Homo sapiens: one gene and its partner. The protein of the gene in region 1 interacts with the protein of each later gene in a pairwise test. Each region holds a gene or a part of one and is shown in the gene's direction. Other genes may lie near its edges. The genes, in order: LIMS2 and HIPK3.

Region 1 (3,621 bases):
CCTGACTCCTGGGGCTGAGGCTGCCGAGGGGGAGGCCAGACTGGGAGGGGATGGTGACTCACAAGGTTACCATCAGTGCCTTAGAGGAGGGGTAGGGTCTGCTGACCCCAGGGCATTCACAGAGGTGTCAGTCCCCTCTGCCCAGTGTGAATCCTGAAAGGCCTGCACCTGCCCAGACTCTGCTTTCTGTCCCCTTCTGTCACTGCTGCCTCCTGGGGCCACTGTGGTCCCCTGGAGTCACTGGCTCCTGGGGTCACTGTTGTCCCCGGGTCACCACTGTCCCTCGGGGTCACCGCTCTAGCCCTGATGCCACCCGGCCCGCCCTTTGTCCTTGCAGCACTTTGTCTGTGCCAAGTGTGAGAAGCCATTCCTGGGGCACCGGCACTATGAGAAGAAGGGCCTGGCCTACTGCGAGACTCACTACAACCAGGTGAGCCCGGTGCAGAACCTTCAGGGATGCGGGTCTGGAGGGGTGGCCAGGAGAGCTGCCGTGAGCAAGGGAGGCTGTGGGCACCCCCTCAGGAGCTCTGCCAGGTGCTGAGCCCAGGCCTGCACCCTCAGCCCTGGCTCCTGGCCTGGGGTCTCGAGACCTGGGCAGCTCTCTTCAGTCTCAGTGTCTTCCTTTGAAGAATGTTCTGGGGCTGGTGTGAGGTCCCGGGCACATGGGGCTGACAGTGCCAGCAACCCCCTCCCTCCCTTGCTCTGGTACAGAAGGCAGGGGGCGCTGGTGGGATGCAGTCACCACCTGGGCCCACCTCCTTGCAGGACAGCAGTGGCCAGAGCAGAGGGGCCTTCTGGGGAGCAACGCCCCAGCCTGTTGTCCTTCCCGGAAGGGTGGTTCTCATGGGTTGCCGTGCCCTCAACCCAGCCTTGCAGCTGGGCCCTGGGAGGCAGGGCCTGGGAGATGCCTGAGAGGGGCCGTGTTGGAGGGCCAGGCTGGCTGCATGATGGCCCTGGGCTGGGGTGTGACTGCCTGCAGCTACTCTGACAGCCTGCTCGGCCCACAGCTCTTCGGGGACGTCTGCTACAACTGCAGCCATGTGATTGAAGGCGATGGTGAGGCCCTGTGTTCCCTCCCCCACCCCACCTGCTCTCCTGGGGCCTGGGTGCTGCAGCTGTGAGCCCAGCCGGGCCTGCGGCAGCCTAGCCAGGCCTGCTGAGTCCCACGCTTCCCTCACAGTGGTGTCGGCCCTCAACAAGGCCTGGTGTGTGAGCTGCTTCTCCTGCTCCACCTGCAACAGCAAGCTCACCCTGAAGTGAGTCCCTGTGATCGTGGGATGGGGCTCAGGGTGGAGGGGGCTCCTGCAGGTCCTTCCTCTCAGCAGCCCTCCTGCACACCAGCTGAGTCTGGCCTGGGGATATGGTGGGGACAAGGGGCAGCCCGGCCTTATACCACCCAGGGAGATGGGGGCAGGTTCAGGGGGTCTAGGGGATCCAGGGACCCCAGGGACCCCAGGCACAGTGAGAGGAGGAGGAACACTCATGCCTCCAACACACCTGCCAGAACCCTGGGCTCTGGGGAGGGAAGGGCATTCCAGCTCAGGGAACAGCATATGCAAAAGCAGCAGTGTCAGCTGCTCATCCAGGAAGCCTCGAGGGGTGTGGGATGGCTGGAGCTGGGAGAGGAGAGATGGCGTCCAGGTTTCCAAGGGCTGTGGGGAGGCATAGAGGGTTCTGGGGTTTCAGAACCTGAGAGAAGCCTCTGGGAGGCAAGGGAAGCCTCAAGGCCCTTCTCATCCCTATGCTCTCTGGCCATCTCACCCTAGGGCCTGGCCTGCTGGCTAGGAGAGGCTGGTGTGGGGAGGCTGGGGGCTGAGGGAAGCCCACTCCACAGTCACCTGTCTGGGGTTAAAGGGGTGGGCGTGGGGCTCTGCTGACAGCTCAGCTTCCTCCTCAGGAACAAGTTTGTGGAGTTCGACATGAAGCCCGTGTGTAAGAGGTGCTACGAGAAGTTCCCGCTGGAGCTGAAGAAGCGGCTGAAGAAGCTGTCGGAGCTGACCTCCCGCAAGGCCCAGCCCAAGGCCACAGACCTCAACTCTGCCTGAAGGCCCTCTTGCGCAGCTGCCTCTCGGCCCCTCCGCCTTCTCCCCTCCTGCTGTCCATGCTTGGCCCCCTCGTCCCCATCCACCTGTGCCCTCCGCATCTTACCCTCCCTTTCTCTTTCCTCATTGCCTTCTCCCTTCCTGTTCCCTCATCTCTGCCTTCCCCATGTCTCTCCTCTCCTTGGCCGTGGCTTCTGTCTGTGAGGAGGCAGGAGCTGGGGAGTGGGAGCCTATGACCCCACGTCTGACAGCCATGTCCACCTGTGCCCACAGCTTCCGCCCACAGACCTCCAGGGACAGGAGCAAATTGCACCACAGCTCCCCGCCTGGCCTGGCCCTCCCCAGGCGGCTCAGTGGCTCATGCTGTCCTGTGAGAGCCCCTGCCCCAGAGCGGCCCCACTAAGCGCATGTGGCTCCTGGGCTACCCACAGCCAGGGCAGCCTGCTGGAGCCACAGGGCCAGGGCCATGCAGATGGAGGCCTCTGGGAGCCACCTCCAATCCCTCACCACTCACTCAACCAGTGGCACAGTGTCCTTGTGCCCACACTGAGCCAGCAAGTCCTGCTGTCCACACCCACAAGCTACCTGGAGGGACAGGACCCACCTCCATCCTTCGGAAGGCCTTCCTGGAATCCCACCTTGGCCTCCGCCCTCGGTTCCGCCCCGCCCCTCTCCCCCCGACCTTGGGGCTTGTGTCGAGCCCTTGGGTGGGGCCAGGAGGAGGTGATGGCGTCAGAGGAGGTGTGGTCAGAGGTGACTTGTTCCCACCTCCAGGGAGGACGCTTCGTCTTCGGCCAGCGCAGACCTGGTGTTTGTTTGTTGGGCTCACGCTTGCACAATGAAGGCTTGTTCACACAACCACAGCAGCCTGCGTGGTTTGTGGCGGGGGTCGGGGGTGGAGGGGATGGCAGCAGCTCTGGACACGCTGCTGCTGGGGCAGTTGAACAGAGGGACAGACATAGACAGGCACGAGTTCAGGGGGCCCTAGCCTCTATCCCAGGCCAGGCTGCCATAAGCAGTTGAAGACTAGCCCTGCCAGGTCCTCACAAGCCTGGGTGGCCAGGTCCACATAAGCTGGCCCAGTGGGCAGAGGAGGAGGTGGGCAGGGACAGGGCATGCCAGCGAGGTGGGGGAATCCAGGCCTCCAAGGTGCTATGTCCAGCTCTGCCCACTGTCTGTCTGGGCATAAGCTGGCCATAGCATGAAGCCAGCAGCCAGAGAGCCGCACCTCCACCCTGGCCTCCTGGGGGTAGCGCAGGCGTATCAATGCCCCGGGTGGGGAGAAGGACAGAAGGTGTGAGGAGGGGCCTGGGAGGAGAACTCTCCCATGAGTGCCCCTCCCCAGTCTGAGAAACAGGAAGGAAGGAAGGGAGGGGGAGGAAGGAAGCAGAAAGGGAGGGATGAAGTCATTTCTGGAGAATGCAGCTGCCCTCCGGGTTCCCTGGGGGAGTCAGTCACACGGCATTTTGGTTTTTCTGCAGCTCTCTGCGGGCCAGAGCCTCCCAGGCCCCCTGTCCACCTTGTGCCACACCCTGCTCCCTCAGACAGACACACTTCTCCTGCTCCAGGAGTTTTTATT
Region 2 (3,390 bases), on another chromosome or scaffold:
CTTCAAGAAAAGCAAGCAGTTAGTAGTGCTTAAGAAAAATTGATTCAGTATCTAATGGATAGTTGATAACTGTCACAGCACAGCATTTTATATACTGTTAAGTGAAACTGCAATACAATCTAAGTTTATTTTGAGAGTGTTTGCTGTATAATTGGACTTAATAAAATGTTTAGAGGTACAGTAGGCATGACTTTGGGTAGATAATAAAATGCAAAATGCTCATTGATTCATGATGTGGTTTTATCTTAGCTTGGGCAAACCATGCAGTATTTAATAAATAGTAGCAGAACTTTTACTATTGAAGCTTGAAAAGATGTGAGTTCTTTGTGTGCAATTTTTGATTTATGCATGTGAGAGGGTTTTTTTTTTTTTTAAGTATTTTTACATTGCAGTACTTGTTTTGCTTGTTGGTGATGTTTGCTTATTTAATACATTCCGTCAGGGACAGAAATTACATGCTTTTTTTTCTTTCTAGGAAGTGTGTTGAGTTCCCCCCTTCCCCGACATTTTTTTCTTTTTTGGGTGGTGGTGATGGTAGTGGTTATGTCTGTTTAAATGAAGTTGCTTTTACAGCACCAAAGACTTAATCATCCATTTCCTATATAAAGGTAGCTACTTTTTGCATAGACCTCAAGTATATTGTAGTGTAAAGGTGGAATTTAAGGAAAGGTATTAAATTGAGGCTGTGTTTTAGCTTACAGGCAAGTAATAAATTGTATCATTTATCTTGAATGTATCATAGATAAGCTGCTATATAACGATTGCCACTTCAGATAGCTGTGAAATTAGGTGATTAACTAGTTGTTATTTAGCCTTCTAATTTCTGTATAAGTCTAATTACATGAATAGAAATTGGGGTTTTGATTTTTTACTTTGCTTTTCTGTTTGGAGTGTCATTGTAACTACTGTATTGTAAATGGTGGAAAATAATTGCATTTGTTACTTTGGGGTGTGTTATTTGCATCAGTATTTTATCTCTATTAATGTTTGTGCTCATCACTGCATATTAAAAAAACTTGGATGTATCAGTGTAACTTAATTTTTTATTTTCATACTGGCATTGTAGACACTTGAGAAAGCTGTATCTTGCAGGCTTGACTTAACTTTTTTCCTTAAAAATCTGGAATATAATCTTACAGCATTTACTGGAATAAACAGTACAAAGCATTGGAGTGTAAAACTCTAGATGTTTTGGATTTACAGCGTTTCTTTGATAAATGAATTGTATACCACTAGTACAGCTCTAGTACAGCGTTCACAATAAGCTAATAATGGATAAGTTTTCTTCACTCCATTAACACAAGCAGTGTTTTATTTAATAATCATCAATGAAATAAATGTGCCTGAAATTGATTTTAAAAATTACAGTATTAGATCATAAAGTAAAAACCAGCAGTACATTTTTAGTCACACTGAAAATGAAGGACTTAATTTTCCCCACAAGTTTCAGTGTTTTTAGTAATTAATTCTATGCATTTTATACAAATAGAAATATATATATATAAAAAATTAAATGTTTAAAAAGGAGTAGCCTAAGATTAATTTAAAAGATTATTTACAGATGACACATTTATGGGGTCACTATTTAAGTAAATTTGCTGCCCTCCACAGCCTTCTAATTTTATTTATATGTTCCAGCAGATTATTAGGATCTGCTTACTTCTTAGGAAAGAATCAATGCTGGCAACACATTGTTTCAGAAACACCAAGTGCAAAGGATTGATTGTATCACAACAGGTACAAAACTGACAGAGTTTTCTTTTTGTTTAGGGCCATGTTTACTACCCTGAAATGTTGTATTTTTTGTCTTTAATTTCCAAGACTTAAAGCAGTCTTGTTAAATTGACATAAATGGTAAACTTCAACATTTTCATAATACAGTATTAATGTTTGATAAAGGTATATCCCAGTTAACTACACTGCTCTTTAATTGCAATCATGGGCATTTTAATGTATTTTAAAATAAATTTCAAAATTCTGCTAAATTCTTAATTTAGCATATTGACAAAGTAATCTGGATTTATACCTTTTAAAAACCATTTTGACCAGTTTTCTTCGGTTTTAATGCTTTCTTAAATAAAACACTGCATGATTTCCAAGTTGCATATTTGCATACTATTTTAATTTGCAAAATGTTTTTTAAATCAAATATCCTGATATTTAGTTGTTTTTTTTTTCCTCCAGCGTGTTTAATTAAATATGTTACTGTATTAGCAAAACATTTTCATTTTTAAAATCTGCTAATTTTAAACTTGGACTGTGTTAAGTAAAAGTTAAATCATACACTGCAAGGTGTAGGAAGATTTGTTTTAATGAATCCAATGATACAGATTTGATTACTAAGTTTGAACTGTTAATTGTTTAACAATTTTAGACTTGTGGCTTTCTTTCTTTGGTTTATTTGTTTTTGCTTTTACTCCTATGCTACACTAGTTTGCCATGTAGCAATTGCACTGTGCAATATTACAATAAGGACTGGGAAAATTTTATGGATGTAATGTCTATTACGGTTTGCGATAGTATTTCTCTCTAGTTCTCAGTGATTTAAATGTGACCAAGCCTTCTGTACTTTGTCACAAAAAGCGGGTTTTCCAGGTGACTATTTTGGTGAGTGTCAAAATAAGAATTTATGGTGTATTACTGTCGATTCACTTTGAATTAAAATATATATATTGCAGCAAACAGCTTGTTGACTTTTTTTCCACCCCAATACTCCTTACAGGGTAGGGAAGGGAGAGGTTAACAATATTGAGTATCTATTAATAACTTACATCATCTTATTTAACTCTCAAAGCCACCTTGTGAGATAGGTATTATTATCTTTGTTACACAAATGAGGGCATAGCTGCAGAATGTTTAGGGAACTTGCACAAAGTCACATTGTCAATGAGTTGGAATCTGAGATACACACCAGGATATCAAACCATAACTAATCTACTTTCTATCAGTTCTTTTAAAACCGAAGTCTGAGGCAGTGTACCCGGACTACCTGCAACCATAAGATGACCCTGTCCCATTTTCCTTCAATATTAAGTTTCCGCAAATATTTTTTGAGAGAAATAATTTCTGTTCAATATGTGTGGATGAATAGGGAATTCACATGTATCTTTAATACTTAAAACATATGACTTCGAAAGAATGTGATTGTAGTAGGCCAGCTTACATCCTAAAATACCAACACCTCATAATTCAAGGATCTAACTTTCAAGGAACCTCAGTTGGAAAGTTTCTAGGGGAGCACTCCCCCAGAACACAATAGTGAGAATACGTATTTTCAATTTCTGCCTTCCCCTATCAATGTTTAATTGAAGTATAACATATATGCATTCTTTGGCATCTGGCTATTTTTTGTTAAACATTTATAAGATACATCCATGTTGTGTGTAGTTC

Evidence for each region.
Region 2: the proteins of LIMS2 (region 1) and HIPK3 interact in a two-hybrid assay, tested with the Homo sapiens proteins (one large-scale study listed by BioGRID and IntAct).

The regions. Positions count from the first base shown.
Region 1 is NC_000002.12:127,637,705-127,641,325, reverse strand, and holds the end of LIMS2 (LIM and senescent cell antigen-like-containing domain protein 2), read left to right. Parts: intron 1-337; coding exon 338-430; intron 431-979; coding exon of another isoform or gene 980-1,007; coding exon 1,008-1,056; intron 1,057-1,180; coding exon 1,181-1,256; intron 1,257-1,897; coding exon 1,898-2,045; 3' UTR 2,046-2,900; downstream 2,901-3,621. UniProt on the Homo sapiens protein: Adapter protein in a cytoplasmic complex linking beta-integrins to the actin cytoskeleton, bridges the complex to cell surface receptor tyrosine kinases and growth factor receptors. Plays a role in modulating cell spreading and migration.
Region 2 is NC_000011.10:33,354,342-33,357,731, forward strand, and holds the end of HIPK3 (homeodomain-interacting protein kinase 3), read left to right. Parts: 3' UTR 1-2,682; downstream 2,683-3,390. UniProt on the Homo sapiens protein: Serine/threonine-protein kinase involved in transcription regulation, apoptosis and steroidogenic gene expression. Phosphorylates JUN and RUNX2. Seems to negatively regulate apoptosis by promoting FADD phosphorylation.